Linked DNA regions of Homo sapiens. The protein of the gene in region 1 interacts with the protein of each later gene in a pairwise test. Each region holds a gene or a part of one and is shown in the gene's direction. Other genes may lie near its edges.

Region 1 (3,500 bases):
TATGTGTACAAAATTTGATATGTAGATTAAAATTTGATGTGTAAGTTTAAATGTTATTTTATAGTGTGCTTTGTAATAATTCCTTTAAATAAACATTTCATGTGCCACTAACATTTGATTTTGACTAATAAACACTAGGATGTATAACTTCTTGTTACTGATATTTTAAGGATTCAGTTATTCTAAATCCTTTATTAATTTTAAGCAAAATTGCTTATAAATGTTTTAGGAACAACTGGAAACCTCCAGGAGGGAAATGATTGGGCTTCAGGAAAGAGACAGACAGTTACAATGTAAGAACAGGAATTTGCATCAGCTACTAAAGAATGAGAAAGATGAGGTGAGTTGTCAGTTATTGCAGATGAAGTTTAAGTGAATTTTTGTTTTCTTTGTAATATGAGATGACCATAAGAGCCACTTTACTTGAAAAAAGAAAGAACCATTTATTCATCTTTCCCCAAATTGATATGGTGGACCTTTGTGTAATAGTATTTAACTGGAAGCTCAGGAACCCTCTCCACTACAGACCCCGCCCCCAGTGGATCCATTTGGCTTAGATATTAGTTCATAGCTGGTAACAGCCAGTGTCCTGGACTGCCCTTCCTGGACTCATGTTCACTGTCACTTTTTCTTAGGCACAAGAGTGCTTTAAATGCAGATCTTTTATTCTCTGCTGTACCTGTACGTGATAGCTGAGGTGCCCCTTCTTGCATGCACTGTCTTAAATATTGACATTGTTCGTCTAGTCAACCAGTTTCTTCATTAAATGGGCACAGAAGCAGTTCACATTAAAAATCTAATTTCTGACACAAAAGATACAATTCTGATTTCTGCTTTAGTGGTTACTTAGCAGAATTCTAATTTCTACTTTAGTGGTTACTTGGACCTATAGCACTAATGCATTTCAAAATATATTTTTTAATTTGTGTAGAAAGAAACTATTATGTTTTTATTGCTCTAAAGTATGACCCCTGACCATGTAATAACTATAAAAATATAATACTTAGTTTCAGTGTTTTATATGTTGTTTTAACTACAATTAAAGACTTCTGAGGAGTGTATTTCTTTAAAGCGCCCTGGAGTGGTTTAGATAGATTTGTTTTACCATATTTGTTTATTTAGTAGTATATTTAGTAAGTAGTAGGTAATTAGTATTTAAACTGTAAGGTTGCTTGTACGTGTTTCCTTGAGTTCACAGACAATTTTGACTAGATCTGTTGATTATATTTAAACGGTTTGAATACAGCTCATCTTCGGTAGGGATTAAGTTAATCATGTTGATCCCTAGCAGGGACTGGGAATGGCTTTATAAAAGAATAGGACATACTCTGTCAGGAGTTGCCTGAGAAACTATAATAGATCTAAATTTTGAACAGCAGTGTCTGGCACCTAGTAGATACTCAGCAAATATTTGGACTGGATTATTCTGCTGTTTGGACTTACTCTTACTCGAGAATTGTTTTTAATTAGAAAAACGAGCCTGCTTACCTGCTGCCATGTGTCACAGGCTTAATTCACTTTGTCACAGATTAATAAAAAGTATAAGTGATTGTAAGTCAGTAATACAAGGAGTTCACTAAAAATGATCAGATGAATTCTGTTTATCTCAGATGAAGTTTTAATCGTTTTAATACTTCCATAAGAATATCTGGTTTTTAAATGATCAGAGTCTATATGTAAGGTAAAAGGTATAGGAGATAATTTAGAAAATTAGCGCTTCTGGAAATTTCAGAATTAAAAAAACTTTATGTGATTCATATAATATTTAAAAAAGTGGTTTCTACTGGTTACAAATAAGGAAGAATCATCCTAGGATTTTAAAACCTATATGGGGAGATGAATTTTAGGATTTTTCTCTTTCAAATTTGTGAATCGTTACTGGGCTTATAATAGCAAATGCCTTTTTCAGGTGCAAAAATTACAAAATATCATTGCAAGTCGAGCTACTCAGTATAATCATGATATGAAGAGAAAAGAGCGTGAATATAATAAACTGAAGGAACGTCTACATCAACTTGTTATGAACAAGAAAGATAAGAAAATAGGTAAACAGCTGGCAAAGATCAGCTAAGAGAATAAATAAGCTAATACTATGCTTAGAAATAATTGTAAAAGGATTGAACACAGTAACTCACGAAATGTTATTTTCATGCTTTATACAATTGATTTTCAGTGGTGTTTGTTTATATAAAAAATGTAGACAACTGGTTAGTGGAAAGTAAGTCATTCTGCCTTGCTTTATTTAATTGCATGTATTTTTTAACATGACCAGTGTAGAATTAATCCATAGAGGAAAACTAAGCCAGAGGACATTCTAATTTTCCATAGCAAAGAACTGATAATATTAAAAATCAGTGTCAGTTTCTGAGTATCAAAAGAAGTATTTTAGAGTAAACCTCATAAAATTTTTCATCAGACCAAATCGTTCATGTCAGTTTGAGTTCCTTTAAATAAGTTTAGCTGTACATTTTTGGAGCAGCTAGTCAAAAGGATGGACTATAAAAGTTAGGCGTGTGTGTGTCTAAGGTATACTTTTTTCCTAATAGTAGTCTTTTTCAAAACTTTAAGCCATTTCATCCAAATATGTGGATAATTTCAAGTAGATAGTGTAAATTAAAAAGCAAAGAAACACGAAAGTAGAGCTTTACAATACAGTTTTGCTGGCCTGGTATAAATACGAGGCACAAGAAGTGTGTGTATTTATTTATTGAAGAGTGGTTTCCTAGTGACTATAGGTAGTCCTCTAACATACATTATACCGTGACACCCCTAAACTGTCTTACCTTAGATTTGAAAAACAGGCGATGAGCGTACGTTTCAGGCTGTCATGTGGTAGACTCTGCCTGCTGTCAGCAAGCAGTTTAGTGTTGACTACATCACTGTCATTCTGCAGCAGAGCTGTTGGAGGTATCTGAATACTTTATTTTTTAAATTGTTGAAAAATAGAAATGAAGATTCAGTAATGCGCCGTTAAGATTGGAAATCTTTAGGTATCCTGAGTTAATCTTACTCATTTGGAGAATCATTGGTTTTTAAGTTTAGTTAGCCTCATATTCATTCATGAAGGAAAAAAATTAAAAAGCAGGATGAAATGCTGAAAGTATAAAGTGTAACACAGAGAAGTTTATTAAGGATTTAGTTCTGGAAACAGAGCTCTTCCATTATAGCGGTCTGGCTGTTTCCTGGTCCAATCGGAAGTGACAGTTTCATAATGATTTTATTAACTCTAAGATTATAATAATTTACTCTTTTTCCTTTTTACGCCAAATGTTTCCATGTCCACCTGCAGCAGAAGATATTACTACTATCAGGGGCTTTGACTCCTTTGATGAAAATGATGATGTTAATGTTAACAGGACATGGCAAACTTTTTCTGTATAGATCCATATAGTAAACATTTTCAGCTTTATGGGATCTACAACTTATTTGTTGCACCTACTTATCTCTGCCATTGTAACAAGAAAAGTAGCCATAGGCAGTATATAAACAAGTAGATGTGG
Region 2 (3,500 bases), on another chromosome or scaffold:
GAGATTACAGGCGTGAGCCACCACGCCCAGCCTTGATTTTTTTAAAAATATGAGTGTAATGTATTTCCCCTGCTAATTAAGTAATTAACTAAAATTAAATAAAGGTCAGGAGACAGAAGAGTACAAGAAAGAAGGAAAAATGGTTAATCTTTTTTTTTTTTTTTTTTTTTTTGTGTGTGTGTGTGTGAGATGGAATCTCGCTCTGTCGCCCAGACTGGAGTGTGGAGTACAGTGGCACAATCTTGGCTCACTGCAATCTCTGCCTCCCGGGTTCAGGCGATTCTCATACCTCACCCTCCCAAGTAGCTAGGATTACAGGTGTGCACCACGACACCTGGCTAATTTTTGTATTTTTAGTAGAGACGGGGTTTCATCATGTTGGCCAGGCTGATCTCGAACTCCCAGTCTCAAGTGATGTGCCCGCCTCGGCCTCCCAAAGTGCTGGGATTACAGGTGTGAGCCATCATGCCCAGCCAAAATGGTTAGTCTTAATTTTGTCATGCAGAGTTATGCTTGGAAGAAGTGTTTTCTGGTCAGTAATTTGTGAGTCTTTAAATTGCAATACTAGAAGCCAGATATGCATCTAATATGTGTATGTATGATCTTTCATAAACATAGGAGTTTAAGACCAAACTGGCCAACATGGTGAAACCCAATCTCTACTAAAAGTACAAAAATTAGCTGGATGCAGTGGTGTGTTAGACATTTTCTACATGAACTGGTCTTGCTAAGATCACCAGTGACCTTAAAATGTTTACTAGTACTATTTAACCTCTCCACGTATTTCATACTGCTTGGCCATTGCTGCCTGACATTCTCCCCTAGGTTCTATCTTCTCTATCCTTGTTTCACCTGTTCTTCCTTTGTGCCTTTCCTTCCTCTTTTCTTCCATATTTTCCTGGTTCCTTTTTCTTTCTAATAGTCTCTTAAATATTGATCTTTTCCAGAATTCTTTCCTTAGCCTCTTCTTATTTCTAGTAATCTATCTGGGTATTTTTTAAATCCACTCTTATGGTTTTAATTACTACCTGAATATAACTTTGAAATTTGTACATCTCACCTAGATCTCTCTGGGTTTTTTTTTTTTTTTTTTTTGAGACGGAGTCTCGCTCTGTCACCCAGGCTGGAGTGCAGTGGCGCGATCTCGGCTCACTGCCAGCTCTGCCTCCCAGGTTCACACCATTCTCCTGCCTCAGCCTCCTGAGTAGTACACCCAGCCTCCTGAGTAGTACGCCCGGCTAATTTTTTGTATTTTTGGTAAAGATGGGGTTTCACCGTGTTAGCCAGGATGGTCGCGATCTCCTGACCTCGTGATGTTTTGTTTTTTGAGACAGAGTCTTGCTCTGTTGCCCAGGCTGGAATACAGTAGCACAATCTTGGCTCACTGCAACCTCTGCCCCCGCCGGGTTCAAGCAATCCTCCTGCCCCAGCCTCCTTGGTAGCTGGGATTATAGGCTCCCGCCACCATGCCCAGCTAATTTTTCTATTTTTAGTAGAGATTCACCATGTTGGCCAGGCTGGTCTCGAACTCCTGACTTCAGGTGATCCACCCGCCTCAGCCTCCCAAAGTGCTGGGATTGCAGGCGTGAGCCACCATCTGAGAATTTACATTGTACCAGAGCAAAATATTTTAAATTAAAAAACAAGAAACAATTTTAGCCAAAAAAAGGAAAACCACCCCAAAATAGATTTTTTTTAAAGAAATAAGGCGTCAAAGACATTCTAGAAACCTTACCCAATCCAAACTTTGGCCCCAGTTCTAACCCTTGCCCTTGCCTTGTATTGCCTTTATGCCACCAACTTTATAAGCCATGCTTGGTTATGATGATTATTAGAGACACAGGTACTTAAAATAGGACAGGGGTTCTAGCCACTATGTCTTCCAATCCCTGTTATTTGTAAAACTTTATGATAATGGAGAAGTTATATACTGTTGGCATTTTATTATTAAATTAGATGTTTGCCTGTTTTTAAGGTGGCTTGTGTTTTTGTTTTTTGGTTTTTTCTTAGGCATCTGTGGGAAAACTAGAATTGCAGAAGTTGGAGGTGTGCCTTACTTATTGCCTCTTGTAAACCAAAAAAAAGTAAGTACTTTTACTCTGCATATTCACATGAAGATTGTAGAAGTTGGGTTGATTACTGTGTTTATTATTAGAAGACCTGTTGATCAGTTGGCAAGGAAGTGCTAATGGATCAGTAATAAAAGGTAAACCAGGGACTTTGTACAAGTTGTGACTTAAATAATATTTTTTCCTCTTCTATAGGTTTATGATCTGAATAAAATTGCAAAAGAAATCAAGCTGCCTGGAGCCTTTATTCTTGGAGCAGGAGCAGGTCCATTTCAGACTCTCGGGTTCAATTCTGAGGTCAGCATATATAAGAAAATTATTTTACTTTATTGGTTTGACATTTGGTTTGTCTTTTTGCTTTTAGTGCCAAAAATCCTACTTTCTGAGTGAATTGTAAATCTCTCTGCAGGTTTGATACTACTTGATGTAGATTTCTGCTATAGCACACACTCCAACTGGACTAACTGTAATGGAGTACTAACTTGTAGTTTTAGATTTTCTTAGGTCATAGCTTCAGCCTTAGATAAATGCAGGGTTCTATGGTATTCTGTTGAAGGTTCTGGATTATAAAATATTTATATTCTTACAGGATTCCGAGCTTATCTATAAATCTTTGCTTTGGGTATGCAGGCAGCTTTGGATTAGAAGATGAATGGAATATTAGTGATCTAGTCAACTCCTTCTTCCACACCAAATAGTAGGAAACTATCACAATAGTATGATGGTTATTTATGAAAGTTAATAGTTATTACTAGTATATATTATTACCATATGAAAATATTACTGTTTCTTTGAATCTCATGAATACAAGACTTCAGTCTGCTCATTCTCTCATAACCTCTTCAGATATGAATAGTAGTCATACAAGTTCTTTGCAGAAACATTAGTACAATTTGCCTAGTGTTCAAGTTAGGAAAAAAAGTTAAAAATTTAAAATAAGATATTTAACGCAAGTTATAGATACACTGTAAGAAATCCAATAAATATCTTTTTTTTTTTTTTTTTTTTTTTTGAGATGGAGTCTCGCTCTGTCGCCATGCTGGAGTGCAGTGGCGCGATCTTGGCTCACTGCAACCTCCACCTCCCAGGTTCAAGCAATTCTCTTGCCTCAGCCTCTTGAGTAGCTGGGACTACAGGTGTGTGCCACCACGCCCAGCTAATTTTTGTATTTTTAGTAGAGACAGGTTTTCACCATGTTGGCCAGGATGGTCTTGATCTCTTCTCTTGACCTCGTGATCCGCCCCCCTTGGCCTCCCAAAGTGCTGGGATTACAGGCATGAGCCACAGCGCCCGGCCTATAAATGTTTTCCAAGTTTTTTATGTCTAAAATTAAATATTATGTATTTTATGTTCTCTTATTAGGACTTGAACTAAAATGTCTTAAAAGGATTAAATGTTTTGTAACATTATTCAAGATATTCTCTTTGCAGA
Region 3 (3,496 bases), on another chromosome or scaffold:
GCTTGGCTAAATTTTTTTATTTTTGTATTTTTTTTATTTTTAGTAGAGACAGGGTTTTGCCATGTTGGCCAGGCTGGTCTTGAACCCTGACCTCAGGTGATCCACCCCCACTGGCCTCCCAAAGTGCTAGTGGCAGGTGTGAGCCACCACACACGGCCAGAATAGACTTTAAAGCAAGAAAGCAAAAGAAAAAATGTATTAGATCCCCGAGAAGTTTCCACACAACTCCAAGAATTATTATTAGAGTTCCCACTCTCTGAGGAATTTTCAAGAGAAATTAGTTAGAATTCAACAAGAAATAAATTACTTTAAAATATTTCCAAATATGAGAGGTTTTTTTTGTTTTTGTTTTTGTTTTTGTTTTTGTTTTTGTTTTGAGAAAGGGTCTCTGTTGCCCAGGCTGGAGTGCAGTCAGTGGCACGATGTCAGCTCACTGCAACCTTGGCCTCCTAGGCTGAAATAGTCCTCCCATCTCAGTCTCACAAGTAGCTGGGATTACAGGTGAGCACCACCAAGCTCAGCTATTTTTTTTTTTTTTTTGTATTTTTAGTAGAGATGGAGTTTTGCCATGTTGCCCAGGCTGGTCTTGCACTTGGGCTCAAGTGATCCACCTGCCTCAGCCTCCACAGTGCTGGAATTACAGGTGTGAGTCACCATGCCCAGCCAATATGAGAGATTTTAAAGCACATTTTTCAATCACCATGTGTCAAAGAAGAAAATATAATGGAAGTTAGAAAATATTAGAGAATGGCCAGGTGCAGTGGCTCATGTCTATAATCCCAGCACTTTAGGAGGCTGAAGCAGGTGAATCACTTGAGCTCAGGAGTTCGAGACCAGCCTGGCCAACATGGCGAAAATCCATCTCTACTAAAAATACAAAAATTAACCAGGTGTAGTGGCACACGCCTGTAAATCCCAGCTACTCAGGAGGCTGAGGCCCAAGAATGGCTTGAACCCTGGAGGCAGAGGTTGCAGTGAGCTGAGATTGTGCCACTGCACTCCAGCCTGGGCAACGAAACGAGAGTCTGTCTCCAAATAAATAATTAGAGAATATTTTTCAATCTGGATGCAGGTGACATGGGTGTGCTCTCGAGAATCCATCAAGCATTGATGATTTGCACACTCTTTTGTGTATATGTTACACTTCAGCAAAAACATTCACAAAGGGGAAAAAGGCAAAAGATACTTAAAGCAGCCAGAGGTAAAGACACATCACCTTCAGACATGACAACCAGACAGACAGACAGCTGGCTTTTCAAAGGAACCCAGAAAACAGTTGGGTGACATTTTCAACATGCTAAAAGAAAACCACTAACCCAAATCAGAGACCCAGCAAAAGTATTTCAAGAATGAGGTTACAGTAAAAACATTTTGCAGACAAATAACGAAAGAGTTTGCCAGCAGCAGGCTAACACTAAAGAAAATTGTAAACAGTGTACTCACATCAGGCACAAGGAAAGTGATCTCAGACGGAAGGGCATGATGCAAGAAGAAATAAAAGCAAAGAAGTAGAAAATACATGAGAAAATCTAGACAAAGATTGCATAAACAGTTTCTGGAGTTTTTTTAAGTGATAGAATTATACAACAGGAAAAAAAGTCTGCAGGGAGTAAACTGAGTTAAAATGTTCCAAGTTAATGACTGTCTGGGAGGAGAATAAATAACATGGATACACTTTGGGAGGCCGAGGCGGGCGGATCACGAGGTCAGGAGATCGAGACCATCCTGGCTAACACGGTGAAACCCCGTCTCTACTAAAAATACAAAAAATTAGCCGGGCGCGGTGGCGGGCGCCTGTAGTCCCAGCTACTCCGGAGGCTGAGGCAGGAGAATGGCGTGAACCCGGGAAGCGGAGCTTGCAGTGAGCCGAGATTGCGCCACTGCAGTCCGCAGTCCGGCCTGGGCGACAGAGCGAGACTCCGTCTCAAAATAAATAAATAAATAAATAAATAACATGGATAAAATTTGTTGTTTGTTGTTGTTGTTGTTGTTGTTGTTGTTGTTGAGACGGAGTTTCGCTCTTGTTGCCCAGGCTGGAGTGCAATGGCGCGGTCTTTGCTCACTGCAACCTCTGCATCCCGGGTTCAAGCTATTCTCCTGCCTCAGCCTCCTGAGTAGCTGGGATTACACGATGCGCCACCAGGCCTGCCTAACTTTGTATTTTTGGTAGAGGCGGGGTTTCTCCATGTTGGTCAGGCTGGTCTCAAACTCCCGACCTCAGGTGATCCGCCCGCCTCGGCCTCCCAAAGTGCTGGGATTACAGGCATGAGCCACTGCGCCCAGCCAAATCTGCATTTTGATAAGTATGCATTTTACTATCTAAGGGAGCTAAAACATTTTTATTATTTTAGCACTGTAACTTTGCTTTTCTTCTTTGTTTTGTTTTTTTGAGACAGAGTCTCACTCTGTCGCCCAGGCTGGAGTGCAGTGGCGTGATCTCAGCTCACTGCAACCTCCACCTCCTGGGTTCAAGCAATTCTCCTGCCTCAGCCTCCTGAGTAGCCAGGATTACAGGTGCACGCCACCACACCCAGCTAATTTATGTAATTTTATAGAGTTGTGGTTTCACCATATTGGCCAAGCTGGTCTAGAACTCCTGGCCTCAAGTGATCCACCTGCCTCGGCCTCCCAAAGTGCGGGGAGACCAGAATTCCACCCAGAATGACCTCTCTGTTCCTAGGAGTGTGACAGCATTTGGGGGGGAAAATAGCGTAGAGTTGGAATTTTTAAAATTCAGTTTGACAAAATGACTTTTAGCTGGAGCATTAAGTCCCTTTACATTTAATGTAATAACTGATATTACATTTAAGTATAAATTTAAATCTACCGTCTTACTTTGTTTTCTATTTTTGTCCTTTCTATGTTCTCTTTTATGTCCTCTCTGGATTTATTACAGATTGTTTGTGGCTTTTAAAAAAAGTCATTGCTTGAATGATGAGAGCTTATATTTAAAAAGGCAGGGGGCTAAAATAAATAAATAATTTAAAAAATAAAAATAAAGTCATTGTTTTCCTTTGAATGTTTGAGAGTTACAATTCTAGGCTGGGCGAGGTGGCTCAAGCCTGTAATCCCAGCGCTTTGGGAGGCCAGCCCAGGTGGATCACCTGAAGTCAGCATCGTGAAACCCCATCTCTACTAAAAATACAAAAATTAGCCGGGCACAGCGGCATGTGCCTGTAATCCCAGCTACTCGGGAGGCTGAGGCAGGAGAATCACTCGAACCTGGGAGGCGGAGGTTTCAGTGAACCAAGATCTCACCATTTCACTCTAGCCTGGGCAACAAGAGCAAAACTCCATCTCAAAAAGAAAGAAATATATATGAGTAGATATTAAATGTGTACACATATATACATATATAAAGGCTAAAATAATGATCTAAGCCTCCATCTCAAGAAGTTAGAAAAAGAACAACAAAATAAATGTAAGAGCACAGAAAGAAGGAAATAATAGGGAGTAGATACAAAGAAAATGGAAAAGAAACACTCAATAAAGAAAA
Region 4 (3,500 bases), on another chromosome or scaffold:
CACCAACCCGTGCCCCGTAGTTCAGGCTGCTGGAGAGGCCGCCTCGCGTGAGTGTGGAGCAGCATGCAGTGCTCTAAGGGTGTTGAAATGCAAGGGCTCGGGGGATTTCAGGTGTCAGTCTTCCTTGCACACCTCAGTTTCCTTCTGGAAACAGTCGGATGCGGTGCCGAGATCCATCCTCCACGCGCTGTAGCTCCTCTCTCTGCCAGGAACTCGGCTTGTCCCACCGTCCCTCGAATCTGCCCTTCAGGCCGTTCCCCACGGGGACAGATGAATCGAGCATCCGGAGAGACCCCTCGATCTGGGACTTTGGGATTGTGGGACGTTCTTTCACAGTCTGCAGAGGAATGCAGCTCAGTCAGTGCCTTCTTCTGAGAAACTCCCTGTGCGCCCTTCCTAGTCTAACTCCAGACCCCCGCCCTCTCTCCTGAGCTTTTTTTTTTTTTTTTTTTTTTGCCACTTCCCGCATCCCTCTCTCCCCTCTTGTTCTCAACTCCAGCCTTTGCTCTGCTCACATTCATCCCTTTTCTGGCTCCCAGATGTGATGGGGCAGCTCCATTGCCCAAAACGAAGGAGTTGTCCTGGCCACCCTCTCTTGCCTCTCCATATGCAGTCTGTCCCTGGGCCTAGAGCTGCTTCCTTTTTGGTGTCATGGAAACCTGTTCTTTCTCCCATGCCTTAGCCAGACGTGGGGCTGGCCTCACCCTTTCAACCTCTGGCCTGTCTGCAGCAGGGCATGCTTCTAGAACGTGCACCTGCTTGTTTTCAGCCCAGAGTGCCCTTCCCACAGCCCCACCTCGTCTCCGGCACCCTGTGTTCCTGTTCTCTGGCCTTCCACGCTGCAGCCCTGCTGGCTTCCCACAGCTCCCAGAGCGCATTGAGGTCAGCCATACACCCTGTTCCACTTTGCCCCACTACGCGGACACCCCTTGCATTTGCCCCATCCTTTTAGTGAATGTGCGATGAGCAATGCCTGTGCCACGTGGATGAGTCAGAAGTGGTCCCTACCCTCCTGGGAACTGCAGACTGCAGGAAAGATGGATACATGAATGGCAACCACAGAAAAGCCAGAGGACTGGGGTCGGGGGGTGCTGGAGGAGGGCACATTGCCCTATCAGGAAGATCAGCTGACCCTGGAAAAGGTGACATGCACGGGAGGCTCACAAAGCCTCTTGGAGTGGCTGGAGGCCGAGGAAGGAAGGCAAGCAGCGGGCTGGAGGCGAGTGTGGCATGAGGGATGCAGAGCCAGCGGCGTGGTCGGGAGCAGGGTGGCAGGGAGGCTGCAGGGGCAACATGGCCACACGATGGAGGGGCTCTTCAGCAGAGGCAGGATGGCAGAAGAGCACTTGGGGGACATTCAGCAGGGGAGTGACCAGGTCCACTGGCCCGTTTGAAAGCGTGCCCTCACTGCTACATGAAGAAGATTGCAAAGCGTTGACGCTGGAGGTGGGGGCCTCCCAGGAGCCATGCTGTCATCCAGGCAGGAGAGGCCAGGTGGGGCAAAGCAGGAAAGGCAGGAGGTCGAGGCTGGAGAGAAGCAGCACCGTCCAGAGGCGTTTCTCGTGAGCAATGCATGGGCAGTGCTTGGCGGACAGAATTGGGAGCTTGGGGTGTGACTGGACAGCTGGCCAGAGAGAGGTCCCAATAGCCAAGAACAGGTCCTAGAGAAGGGAGAGGCTTGGAAGAAGCTGCCCTGCGTTCGGCATTGGACCTGCTGTGCTGGGGCTCATGGGCACTCTAGGCTAAGCTGAGGCGTCTGGCAGGCCATTAGGTCTGGAGGTAAAGAGCGAGTTTGGGCTCAGCACCACCTTTGGGAGTCGCTGATACTTGGAATCCAGAATGGGGAAATGAGCCGAGGAGCAGGCCCAGGACAAACCAAGACGGAGGAGCAGGCGGGGAGCAGGAGAGGAGCACCTGCCGCCTGTTCCGCACTGAGAGGCCGGGGAGGGAGACCGAGAAGCGTCCGTGAGATCCAACAGGAAAAGAGGTCGGGGGCATCTAGGGAGTCCCACAGGAGGGAGGATGTTGCGGTTCTTGGGGCCCCATAGCGGGGCAGGTCATGGAGCACCCATGGAATCCTGCAAGAAAGGAGGTCATGGTGTCCCTGAGATCCTGCAGAAGGGGAGGCCGTGGCATCCCTGGGATTCAGCAGGAAGGGAGGTCCTGGAGTGTTCCCAGGATCCGGCAGGAGGGAGGTCATGGCACATCGGTGGGATCCTGCAGGAGGGGAGGCCGTGGCGTGTTGGTGGGATTGGGCAGTGAGCATTGTGGACGTGGTTGTCTTCCGCTGAGTGGGTGGTGGGCTGTTTCTCTTAGCAGTTGTGGCTGTGAGGTCAGCATTGGCCTCTCCCCTTCACACTCAAGCTCTCCTCTGCAGACTCTGTTGACACCTGCAGCTTCTTTTCTGTTTCTCGGTGCCTGACACAGAAGAGGTGCTTAGTAAACCCCAAATGTTAGTCAGCCTCCTTCCCTGGGCCAGGTCACCTTGACCCTGGGCTGGGGTCCTACTGGGCATTATTTTCTTAGGCACTCAGGCACCCCAGTGCCTGTTGGGAGATAAAGGTGCCTGCTGGCCTGTGGCAGGGTGATAAGGTGCCCTGAGTCCCTGATTGTCTGCCCCAGAGGGTGGGGTTTGCAGCATCCCTTCTCCTGTCAGATGAGCTCAGAGGACCCAGCTCTCTGTGCTTCATGTGTTACCTCCGCCTTGCAGATCATCCCCAAGCCAAGCGAGCCAGCCCGGCAGCCGGAGAGCCACCCGGAGGAGACGGAGGAGGAGCTCCGTGAGCACCAGGCTCTGCTGGACGAGCCCTACCTGGACCGGCTGCCGGGGCAGAAGGAGGCGCACGCACAGGCCGGCGTGCAGGTGAAGCAGGAGCCCATTGAGAGCGATGAGGAAGAGGCAGAGCCCCCACGGGAGGTGGAGCCGGGCCAGCGCCAGCCCAGTGAGCAGGAGCTGCTCTTCAGACAGGTGACCGCAGGCGGGGAGGGCACCAGAAGGCTGGCACGCACAGCCACCCTCGGTCCCCAGGTGGCATCTTCTGTGGTGATCACGGGGGCTGCAGGGCATCCTTGCGCGGTCACTGTCCAGTGTCTCACCTGTCTTGTCCTGGCCAGTGAGGGAGGTTGATGTGGCTTCCATTTTGTCCCAGCCGTTCCTAGGGATACGAGATGTTTGCCCCCTGTGGGTGGTTACGTAACTGCTTTCCAGCCATGCGCAGGCCCCAGAGAATGGATTTCCTTCCTGTCTGTAGGCTGTAAATGAACACAGAATCCATGTGTTAGTGAGATACAGCATGCTTTTTAAAGAAGTGAAGGAACTAGAGGTATTAATTGATCAAAAAGGCAGGCAGGGCCTGATCAGAAGTCAAGACCTTTTGTGACCCAGAGGTGCTAATGAGCAGCCCTGCAGATCCAGACAGACGGGTGCGATTGTGGCACCCAGAGCCAGTAAGGCTTCAGGGCACTGACACCCAGTAACCAAACTCACAGGAGACTGATGA
Region 5 (3,500 bases), about 81 Mb from region 1:
ACATATGAACACGATTCCAGCACAATCCATCATTAAGGTAGAGCAACCTCTGGAATGCTGTCAGAGTGCAGAACCCGGGATCCAGGCAGTGCTCTGGAAGGGACTTGTCTGAGCTGGGTCTAAAGGAGTGAGCCTGGCCAGGCAAGGAAAGGTGAGGGGGAGAGTGTGCACATGAGTGCAGGTGCGGGGAGACCAAGCCACCTTCGGGGGCTGGCCAGGCAAGGAAAGGTGAGGGGGAGAGTGTGCACACGAGTGCAGGCGCGGGGAGACCAAGCCGCCCTCGGGGGCTGGCCAGGCAAGGAAAGGTGAGGGGGAGAGTGTGCACACGAGTGCAGGCGCGGGGAGACCAAGCCGCCCTTGGGGGCTGGCCAGGCACTGACGCTGGCATCTGTGGCGGTGCAGCCCCAGCAGCAGCTCTACAGGGATTTCATGCATTTCCAGGATAGAGCTGTTGAGATTTTGTCAATTTCTATATAAGGAAATTAAGTGCGTTAAGAACATCAGTCATAAATGCAATTATTTATTTACGAAAATATTTTCCAAATTTAATGTTTCCCCCCCTTCCTTTGGAAGCATTTTGATACGGACACCCAGGATCTCACAGGGATTGAGTGGGCCCCAAACGGCTGTGTGCTGGCAGTGTGGGACACCTGCTTGGAGGTATGAAGATGACCAGGTGACATGTTTGCTTTCGAGAGCTTTTCCCGGAATTTCATGCTTTCTGAATGCTGCAATATAGTTTGCTTTATCTTATTTCAGATAACAAGTTGAGCTTTGTTTTAAAAGACAGGGTCTTGCTCTGTCACCCAGGCTGGAGTGCAGTGGTGTGATCACGGCCCACTGCAGCCTCGACCTCCTGGACTCAAGTGATCCTCCTACCTCAGCCTCCCAAGTAGCTGGGACCACAAGCATGCACCACCACGCCCGGCTAATTTTTGTATTCTTTGTAGAGATGGGGTTTCACCGTGTTGCCCAGACTGCTCTTGAACTTCTGTGTTCAAGTGATCTGCCAGCTTCGGCCTCCCAAAGTGCTGGGATTACAGGCGTGAGCCACAGTGCCCGGCCGAGTTGAACTTTTATCAGCGAGCCATTAGGTTGACCTCCCAATTTCCCCTTTTTCCTCATGCTCTCACTGCCTCTCCGTGACTATCTCAGTACTAGCTGGCAGTTCCAGCTTTTCCACGGCCACGCGGACAGTCCTGCCAGCTTTGTGCTATCTGCACCAATGTCACTCTGCAGCACCCGCGTCTGTGGTGTGTTCCTGGCGACGGGGGTGTATTCATTATTAACTGAAATGTCTCATCTGCAGTACAAGATTCTGCTGTACTCATTGGATGGCCGGTTGTTGTCCACGTACAGCGCTTACGAGTGGTCCCTGGGCATCAAGTCTGTGGCCTGGAGCCCCAGCAGTCAGTTCCTGGCAGTTGGGAGCTATGATGGAAAGGTGGGAACCAGTGCAGGGCACTCAGGAAGTCCGACCGCCCAGCGGGCCGGGCCCTGCCTCACCTGTGCATGGTTTCCTTCCTCAGGTGCGCATCCTTAATCACGTGACTTGGAAAATGATCACGGAGTTTGGGCATCCTGCAGCCATTAATGATCCCAAGATAGTAAGTCTGGAACACGTGTTTCTGCCTGAGCAGGCTGTTGGGGAGGGCGGTGGGAAACTGCTCCTTCACTTTGCTTTCTTGATTGTGGTTTATTATTTAACCGGGCACTTCCATCACCGTAAACTTGCTACTGTGACATTTCACGCGTCTGGCCCTGCCCTGGCCTTTGTTCTTCCTCCTCCACGCTGCCCAAAGGGTCTGAAGTGGGCCTTGCCCTGGCCTGTCCTCTGCCGCTGCCACCCCAGTCCAGTTTTCTCCTTTGTGGTCTGTCTGGATGCAGATCCCTGTGCTGTACAGAGTGGCCAGGGTCTCCTGCCCCCAAACACTGGGCATCTGCTGTCGTGCCAGGCACTGTGCTCTGGGCCGCAGCCAGAGAAGAAGAGACAGACCCCTGCACTTGCAGAGTGCGGCTGGAGAGACAGGGAAGGGGCTGGAGAGCTGGGTGTCTCCACGGGGTGGCAGGGAGTGGCCACCAGCGAGGGATCGCAGGCACAGATGCTGCACCAGTGATCAGGGACTCGGGGAGGGAGCGTTCCAGGCCAAGGGAACAGGAAATGCAAAGGCCCCGAGGAGTGGGCCACGCATCCATGTGTGCAGCGGGCACTGCGCTGGGAGCCAGAGACAAATGCTGCCCTCCTGGTGTTGACCTGTAACCGACAGAGCTGAGTGAAAGGCGGCTTGGATTCGATGAAGAGGCCAGTGAGTGGCTGGGGCTGCGCATGCCAGATCAGCCACTGCCGGGGATGCATCCTGGAGGGGTGTTTAAGTGAAGACCAGGAGGAGGAGCTGCGCGGTGTCTGGGCAGAAAGGGTGTTTCAGGCAGAGGGGCCTCCTGACGTGGCCAGTGGCTTGTGTGGCTGGAGGCCAGGGTGTCTGGACAGGTGAGCCCGAGCAGGGCTGGCCACACAGGTCCTGAAGGTTTGCCTGTGATTCCTGCATTCTCCAAATCCCTTCGCCACACAGCAGCAGAGCATGCTTTAAAGGCATGAACCAGGCCAGGTGACTCCCTTACCTGGGGCTCTTCAGGGGCGTAGGGGCTGCCCGCCTTCCACTGAGCCTGGGCCGCTGTCCTTTGCTTGCCAGGCTCTCGGGCACAGATGCCCCCACCTCGGGTCTGTGTCTGCTGCTCCCGGGGCCTCTGCTGTGTTGGTGCAAGTGTTCTCTGTATCCTCTTATCACGGAGGGAAGGCTGAGCCCACTCCCTTGCTGGATGATGGTGGCTGCAGTGGTCTCCCGTCTGTAATCACAGGGCACACATTTGCTGCCTGTGTCTCAAAGGGTGGGCTCCTCAGCAGGACACGAGAGAGGGTGGCTGGGTGATCTCAGCTCTCGGGACTGCGGGGTTCGTGCTTCCGTCTCTCCCGGTGGCAGCAGGACCAGCTGTCATGGCAGGCACACCTGTTGACCATGCGCTGTCATGGGCATTTGCCACGTCCATCCTTGGCTTCCGGGTCCCTGTCCTGAGCCGGGCGTGGCCACCTTGTGTCTTTCAGGTGGTGTATAAGGAGGCCGAGAAGAGCCCACAGCTGGGACTGGGCTGCCTCTCCTTCCCGCCGCCCCGGGCCGGGGCCGGCCCTCTCCCGAGCTCAGAGAGTAAATGTAAGTAGCACATGTGATGTCATTTGTTTTCCTTTTTTAATGCAAGATTCCTCGTTGTCCAGATAAACTTCGGATGTTCCTTATGTTTAAAAAAAAAAACTTTTTTTCCCTTCCATGCTTCCAGCCAGTGTGCCCCTCAGCCTGTTGGCTGGAGGTTGACTAGGGTCTGAATTGCGCAGTGGGCCGTGAAGGTGCGGCTTCTGTTACTGAATATGAGCCCTGGAGACCCGGATCTGACAGCGGGAGCTCCGAGGGGATGTTTTTCCGGAGCTCCGAGAATGATGTTTTTCAAAG
Region 6 (3,500 bases), on another chromosome or scaffold:
TTTCTCCCATTCTGTGGGTTGTCTCTTCACTTTGTTGATTGTTTCCTTTGCTATACAGCAGCTTTTTTACTTGATGTGATCCCATTTGTCCATTTTTGTTTTGGTTGCCTGTACTTTTGAGATCTTTCTTAAGAATTCTTTCCCCAGACCACTGTCCCAGAGAGTTTCCCCAGTGTTTTCTCTTGGTAATTTTATAGTTTCAGGTCTTATATTTAAGTCTTTAATCCACTTTGATTTGTAAAATCAGGCTTTTATCAGCCTTTTATCAGGTTGGGGAAGTTTTTTTAATCATGATTGGATAATGGATTTTGCCAAATGTGTTTTCTGCATCTATCAAGATGATCAGATGGTTTGTGACCACATTCTACTGTATAGTGTATTATATTAATGAGTTCAGATGTTAAACCAACCTTCCATTTCTAGGATAAACTCCCCTTGATCATAATGTATTATCCTTTGTATATGTTGCTAGATTTGGTTTGCCAATATTTTGTTGAGGATTTTTGTGTCCATATTCATGAAGGGTATTCATTTGTTATTTTCTTGTGATGTCTTTGTCTGGCTTTGGTATCAGGGTAATACTGACCTCATAGAACAAGTGAGAGTTTCCTTCTCTATCTTCTGTTAGAGTTTTCAAAATACTCATGTTGTTTCTTCTTTAATGGTTTGGTAGAATACATCACTGATGCCATCTGAGCCTGGGCTTAACCTTGTATAAATATTTTTAATTACTAATTTAATTTTTTTACTTGTTATAGATCTATTCAGATTTTCTATTTTTCTGTTATTTTTTTATCACTATTTTTTTGGTATTTTTTATCTTTTTAGAGTGTTTTTCCAGTGCGTTAGCTTACATATGGGTAAGTTTGCTTCTTAACTAGCGTACACTTTCACTAGTTAAGAAACTAGTCATAATGGCTTCTTTTTTTTAACTTTTTTTTTTTTTTTCTGAGACAGGATCTTGTTCTGTCACCCAGGCTGGAGTGCAGTGGTGTGATCTCAGCTCACTGTAGCCTCCGCCTCCTGGGCTCAAGCAGTCCTCTCCCGTCAGCCTCCCAAGTAGCTGGAGAAGCCGAGCGCCACCACACTCGGCTAATTTTTGCAATTTTAGTGGAGACGGGGTTTTGACATGTTGCCCAGCCTGACCTTGAACTCCTCGGCTCAAGCCATCAACCCATCTCAGCCTCCCACAGTGCTGATATTACAGGCATGAGCCACCGTCCCTGATTGATGAGGTTTTTTATTTCCTAAAAGCCACTGCCCTGAGGGCCCCTGCCCCTTCCTCAGGCTCCCCTACATCTCTCCACAAGTCAGCCTCCAACGGTTCACACCTGGAAAAGCAGGGGACCTTCAGAACTGAGCTCCAGCCTAGTTGGCACCTATATAGATTGGTTGGCCCTCCTGCTATTTCAGTTATTATTTTGAACATCACCACTTGGAAGACTGAGACTCCACTTCAGACCTCTTCTTCCTAACACCCTGATCTGGGGCTGATTATGTGCTTTAACATTCTACTGGGCAGGTCTGGCAGAAGGAACAGTATCAACTGACTGAGTAGGTCTCATTGGCAGTTGTGATTCAGAGACCTAGAAAGCTGAACCCACGGCTGGCAAGAAGAGGATGGTTTGTGGGACCTGGGCTGATGTCTGATGAAATTTTAAGCCCCAGCTATAGCTACTACAAAGAAAAGTGGCTGATGATAAGCATGTAACTCAAAGTAAGTGAACTGAGAAGCATGTTTTTTGTTTGTTTGTTTGTTTGTTTGTTTGAGACAGTTTCGCTCTTGTTGCCCAGGGTGGAGTGCAGTGGCACAATCTCGGCTCACTGCAACCTCTGCCTCCCAGGTTCAAGCGATTCTTGTGCCTCAGCCTCCGAGTCGCTGGGATTACCAGGTGTGTGCCACCACACCTGGCTAATTTTTTGTATTAGTAGAGACAGGGTTTCTCCATGTTGGTCAGGCTGGCCTCGAACTCCCGACCTCAGGTGATCTGCCAGCCTTAGCCTCTCAAAGTGGTGGGATTACAGGCATGAGCCCCCGCGCCCTGCCTGAGAAGTATGTTTTTATGTTGAGGATGTTACTGTGTGATGCCACATACATTGAAACACATACATTTAAAGTAAGGCCACAGACTCAAATGCCTCTAGAAGCCAGACAGGTAGCATACCTCCTCCTTTCATTGATTCAGAGACGTACATTTTTTTTGGCATTTGAACATCTCTGAAATTAGAGTGAACGTTACAATTGCAAGTCAAATGGTGTATAAAAAAGCAGCATCTTTATAGTCAGTGGTGCTTTAGATTAGACGAAATAACAGAAAATGAGTGGTGTTGGCCAGGAAAATTATATCCTTCTCTGTTGGCCTTTCACTTTGAAAGAGAGAAATGGATACAGAGACCTACTTTCCTACAATAAGACACAAGAACAATGACAAATGGGAACGACTTTGCTGCCTTCATGTCCGGTAGCCAATAGGGATTGGTGGCAACAGGCAAACTGGAGAGTACCCTTGCCCCCAGGGCAGCTCCCCCTCTTCCCTAGCTGATTATTGCCTGTGGTGGCATAGATCTAGTGTTGACAAGTGTTCTGAGTTTTCAAAGGAAGTCAGAAACCCCAAAATCTACATCTTCATGTGAAACTCCTAATTTTAAAATGATGGCTCAATTTTTTTTAACTGGCGAAAAAAAATATATATATACAAGTTAGATGAGCCTATGAGTGCTCAGAATAAATATAACCTCTCTTTTAAGGATGCAATATTAAGAGGCAGCATGAGACAAACCAGTTTTTACAATTAAGCCAAAAAAGAAAAGTTAAATCCATTTCGAAGTTTAACACTAGGTTCAGAGGCCCAGAATAACAAATACTGCAGGGCCTCTTACTTATTTCATCTTTAAACTTTCTTTTCTGCCTCCCACTAAATGGAAGATAAGAAAATATAGTTAAATCTATTGAAGATGTTGCATTCCTGTTTATAAAAATGTATGATCACTTTTTAAAATGCAGGCTTAGGTTTCCAAAGCAACAGCATTTGCTTCCCACTGCTGTAGACTGTGGTCAGTGAAAGGCAGGATGATGTCATGGGAAACCCCCAAATTATGAGAAGACCAGGGTGCTAATTCTGGCTGTGTGATGTGCAACTGATTTAGGTTCATTTCATCGTCTTTATTTATAAAATGGGGATGATAATAGCTACCCTCTGTACCTTACATGGTTGTAAGGGCCACATGAGATAAAACATGTGAAAGTATAAAGTGTTATGTATATATTAGTTGGTATTGCCCAAATCACATGGGTAGTTGGGACAGCACAGGTTCTTGAATCTCAGATTCTCCATCTCTGGCTACTGCTCTTTCCCTAGACTGCAGCACCTGTTGAAATGGTCATCTTATCAGCCAGTGGGGTTGAACAGATGAGGAAGCATAAGGCAAGAAGTTATTAGAAAAAAGTTAGCCAACATCTTAGGATCTCAAATAGCACTGTGTCTCTGTACAACAGGGTG
Region 7 (3,500 bases), on another chromosome or scaffold:
GGAGACAGTAACATCTACCGGAAACCCCCGATCTACAAACGGCATGGTATGGTCAGAGGTAGATAGGGCTTGGCCACACAAGGAGAGGGGGGAGGTTAACCATCTATGCAGATGGCCCTGCACAGGCCACCAGGAGCCACAAAACACAAGGCTGCATCTTGGTCCTTCTTGTTGACTGCCCCATCACCCAGGGTGACATTAGGGCAGAGTTTGGTATCATTTCAAAAGAACAAAGTCCTCATGTCCCCTCAGTTCTTTCCCACCACCTTTGCAATCTCCCCCTTACCTGCTCTCTGTCATCCTAAGTTCCATAATTGGTAAAACCTTTGTAAAACGCACATGCCCCTGGGAGAGTCACACTCCAAGGCATTAATACTTGAAATGTTCATTAGAATAACAGGGGATGCATACAGATTCCTGGGCCCCACCCCAGGCTTACTGAATTCGAATTCTGTATGTGTCACGGTTTCTCCAAGTGATTCTGATACTCAGCCCAACTTGGGAACCCCTGCTGTAAGTTGTTCTCAGTCACAGTCTCCTGAGAGTGGATGGAGACTTGCAGAGGAGATGTAGATGAGTAAGGTTGCAGAGGGTGACTTCCTTCTTTCATTCATTCATTGATTTAGTGTTTCTTAAAGAATGATCTATGGACCATCTGCACCTGAGAGACATTTAAAAGGCAGATTCCCTGGCCCCTTCCTTGCCCCAGACTCCCTTAATTATAAATATTGAGAGTGTGAACTAAGAATCTGCACTATAACTGGCTTTGTCCATGATTCCTCCCTGCACTTAGTATGAGAACCACCAAGTCATTCATCACTGACACCACCTGTTCACTTTTGCAAAAAGTACTTACTAAGCCTCGATTGAAGGAGCACATCCCTTCCATTGAAGCTGCAGAGGAGCAGCTGCCACCCTGTGCACCCACACTTGCTTAAGGGTCTAGCTGGATAACAAAAGGAGGCCCAGAATCGGTGGAGCTTGGAGATGAGCGAAGCAGTCCTGCACCAGGTTCTGAACTAATTAGCTGGTGGAGGGGACAATACGAGTTTAAACAGCGGCTCTGGGTGCCTAAGATTCTACATTTTATACAGACATCCTTGGTTCCAGAGGGGGCTGAGCAGGGGGGTCCGAGGTGAGTCTGTGAGCATGTGCAAGTCTGTACCAGCTTGTGAAGGACATGCCATGTCCCCTGAGTACTCATAGAAAGACACCAACATGACAAAGGTAGTTTGGCTTTATACCTAGAAAAGGCCCCCAGGTCACAAGCTTCTCAGGACTTTGTGGGATTTTCCAGGTGGGCCCTGAGGGGTGGCACTAAAGCAGACTCAAGAGGAGTCTGGGGTGGAGGTGGGTTGCTTGGAAAAGAGGGCGGAGGAAAAAGCTAAATGCAGTCAGCCAGGAGGGGCTGCCCAGGACCCAAGTCAAAGAGAAGAATTTGAAAGCTTTGGAAGCAAGTGCTGTTGTGGGGGCTGCATAGCCCAGGGCTGGCTGAAGCTGATCCACCACGCTCTGCCACTCTGGCTCCACAGAGCACAGAGCTTGTCCCTAAAGCTTCCTGTAGCTGACCATGAGAAATGGTCATGCAGCCACACACACTTCCCCAGCCCCTCTCTCTGCTCTACCAGCCTGTCACCCACGTTTGGGCCACGAGAAGTCACTGCTCTGTAAGTAGTTGTGACTGCAGTGGGTCTTTTTGGTCACCCCTGTCCTGGGCTTACTTCAGGTGGAAGCTTGAAGCTGGATGGCAGCTGAGCCAGCAGACCGATTCTGACACTTACAGATGAGGAAACTAAGGCAGAGATGGTAGGACCTGCCCAGTGTTACAGCTGAGTAAAGTGGCAGAGCTGGGACCAGAACCCAGGTTTGCTGACTCCCTGTCTAGCACTCCTTCCTTCAGGCTATGTAGTCCCTGAGCAGAATGTGGCATCTCAGGTTGTGAGAAATGATGGAGTTCAAATTTATAACAAGGAAGGCTTCTAAAGGGCTAGGAAGGCTTCTAAAGGGCTGGGGCTCACCTGGGACCTGTCCAGTCTTATTTGAGGAGCCACACCCTTAGAGGTCATTCTGGAACAGACCTGGGAATCCATGGAATGTGCTGGAAAGAGCCCTGGGCTGGGATCTGGTCCAGTTCTGGTGCTCACATGCTATGTGGTCTTAAGCAAGCCCCTTCCCCTCTCTGGTGCTCCAATTACTAAATGCAAAATGAGGGTTTGGCCCCAGTGCTTTTCCAGCTCCGATGCTCCATGGCCCAGTTCTAACAGAGAGCCCTGATCTTGAAGTGGACTCACTCCCCTGGGCTGGAGCCTGGTAAAGATAGGAAAAGGGTACACAGTCCCATCCCGGTCACTCTGCCTTCCTGAAGTGCTCTCCTTGGGTCCTCTGCAGGTGATTTGTCTACAGCAACCAAGAGCAAAACAAGTGAAGACATCAGCCAGACCTCCAAGTACAGTCCCATCTACTCGCCAGACCCCTACTATGCTTCGGAGTCTGAGTACTGGACCTACCATGGGTCCCCCAAAGGTAGTACCCCCATAGGAGCCTGGGTCCAGGGCCCTAACACCTGTGCCAAGGACACGGGTGTTCAGAACAGTTGCCCACTCCTTTATACAATCATTCTGAATAAGAGTGCTTAGAGGGTTTATAACTAAGGGTGTTTATTCATTCAACAAATATGTACTAAACACTGGCCATGGACCCTAGCAATACACTGGGGAGCAAAACAGACCAGGTCCCTGCCCTTGTGGAGAAGACATAGGCCCCAGCCATGAGAGGGAGGTGATGCGCAGAAGGTAGGAGAGCTGATGGCAGGGGCCTGCTGTCCAGCCTGAAGATGACAAAAGTTTCTCAATGCAGCCACTCAGCTGCCATCAGGAGGGTGGCAAGGATGTAACACAGCAGAGAGTGTAGAAATACTTCTGCAAAGACCCAGGATGTGAGAGAGGATTCCACTGGAGGAAAGAAAAGGCTGTCCACTTAACCTTGAACTCAGAGAGGAAGAGAAGCAGTAGAGGTGAGGGAGGAGGTCCCCCAGGGTTTTGAGGGTTGAGGTAAGGATTTTGGTTGTTATCCTAAACAGTGAGTGGCATGATCACATTGAAAGTAGTGGCATGATCACATTTGTGCTTTTGAGAGACCACTTTGGCTGTAGGGTAAAAAATGGTTGGGAGGATGGAGAAAGAGAGGATGTGGGGAGGTGGAAGGCTCCTGGTAAGGGGTCTCAGTGGTCCTCAGATACCACCTCACCCAATCATACAACCCAAGCTGTTCCTTTCAAGTATGGGGGGAAATTTTTCCCCCCATCAAGATCCACTCTGATTCAATGTCTTTACTAATTCAATGTCCATTCTGAGCAAAGCTTCACAGAAGCTCAGAGATGACTCTTTGGTGCTGGGCACAGTGGCTCACGCCCGTAATCCCAGCACTTTGGGAGGCCAAGTTGGGAAGATCACTTGAGCCCAGGAAATTGAGACCAGCCTGGACAACATAGCACTTCTTCT

The links.
Region 2: the proteins of SSX2IP (region 1) and C11orf54 interact in binary tests that used the Homo sapiens proteins (3 or more experiments, as listed by UniProt).
Region 3: the proteins of SSX2IP (region 1) and AP1M1 interact in binary tests that used the Homo sapiens proteins (3 or more experiments, as listed by UniProt).
Region 4: the proteins of SSX2IP (region 1) and HDAC4 interact in binary tests that used the Homo sapiens proteins (3 or more experiments, as listed by UniProt).
Region 5: the proteins of SSX2IP (region 1) and WRAP73 interact in binary tests that used the Homo sapiens proteins (3 or more experiments, as listed by UniProt).
Region 6: the proteins of SSX2IP (region 1) and TTC23 interact in binary tests that used the Homo sapiens proteins (3 or more experiments, as listed by UniProt).
Region 7: the proteins of SSX2IP (region 1) and ABLIM3 interact in binary tests that used the Homo sapiens proteins (3 or more experiments, as listed by UniProt).

The regions. Positions count from the first base shown.
Region 1 is NC_000001.11:84,662,962-84,666,461, reverse strand, and holds part of SSX2IP (afadin- and alpha-actinin-binding protein), read left to right. Parts: intron 1-229; coding exon 230-340; intron 341-1,909; coding exon 1,910-2,045; intron 2,046-3,500. UniProt on the Homo sapiens protein: Belongs to an adhesion system, which plays a role in the organization of homotypic, interneuronal and heterotypic cell-cell adherens junctions (AJs).
Region 2 is NC_000011.10:93,751,672-93,755,171, forward strand, and holds part of C11orf54 (ester hydrolase C11orf54), read left to right. Parts: intron 1-2,010; coding exon 2,011-2,084; exon of another isoform or gene 2,085-2,088; intron 2,089-2,264; coding exon 2,265-2,366; intron 2,367-3,500. UniProt on the Homo sapiens protein: Exhibits ester hydrolase activity on the substrate p-nitrophenyl acetate, in vitro. Regulates DNA damage and repair by regulating HIF1A degradation via chaperone-mediated autophagy (CMA).
Region 3 is NC_000019.10:16,242,911-16,246,406, forward strand, and holds the end of AP1M1 (AP-1 complex subunit mu-1), read left to right. Parts: 3' UTR 1-2,996; downstream 2,997-3,496. UniProt on the Homo sapiens protein: Subunit of clathrin-associated adaptor protein complex 1 that plays a role in protein sorting in the trans-Golgi network (TGN) and endosomes.
Region 4 is NC_000002.12:239,114,521-239,118,020, reverse strand, and holds part of HDAC4 (histone deacetylase 4), read left to right. Parts: intron 1-2,710; coding exon 2,711-2,968; intron 2,969-3,500. UniProt on the Homo sapiens protein: Responsible for the deacetylation of lysine residues on the N-terminal part of the core histones (H2A, H2B, H3 and H4).
Region 5 is NC_000001.11:3,633,104-3,636,603, reverse strand, and holds part of WRAP73 (WD repeat-containing protein WRAP73), read left to right. Parts: intron 1-573; coding exon 574-660; intron 661-1,309; coding exon 1,310-1,444; intron 1,445-1,529; coding exon 1,530-1,607; intron 1,608-3,100; coding exon 3,101-3,206; intron 3,207-3,500.
Region 6 is NC_000015.10:99,239,582-99,243,081, reverse strand, and holds part of TTC23 (tetratricopeptide repeat protein 23), read left to right. Parts: intron 1-1,522; 5' UTR 1,523-1,717; intron 1,718-3,500. UniProt on the Homo sapiens protein: Participates positively in the ciliary Hedgehog (Hh) signaling.
Region 7 is NC_000005.10:149,242,493-149,245,992, forward strand, and holds part of ABLIM3 (actin-binding LIM protein 3), read left to right. Parts: coding exon 1-46; intron 47-2,388; coding exon 2,389-2,523; intron 2,524-3,500. UniProt on the Homo sapiens protein: May act as scaffold protein. May stimulate ABRA activity and ABRA-dependent SRF transcriptional activity.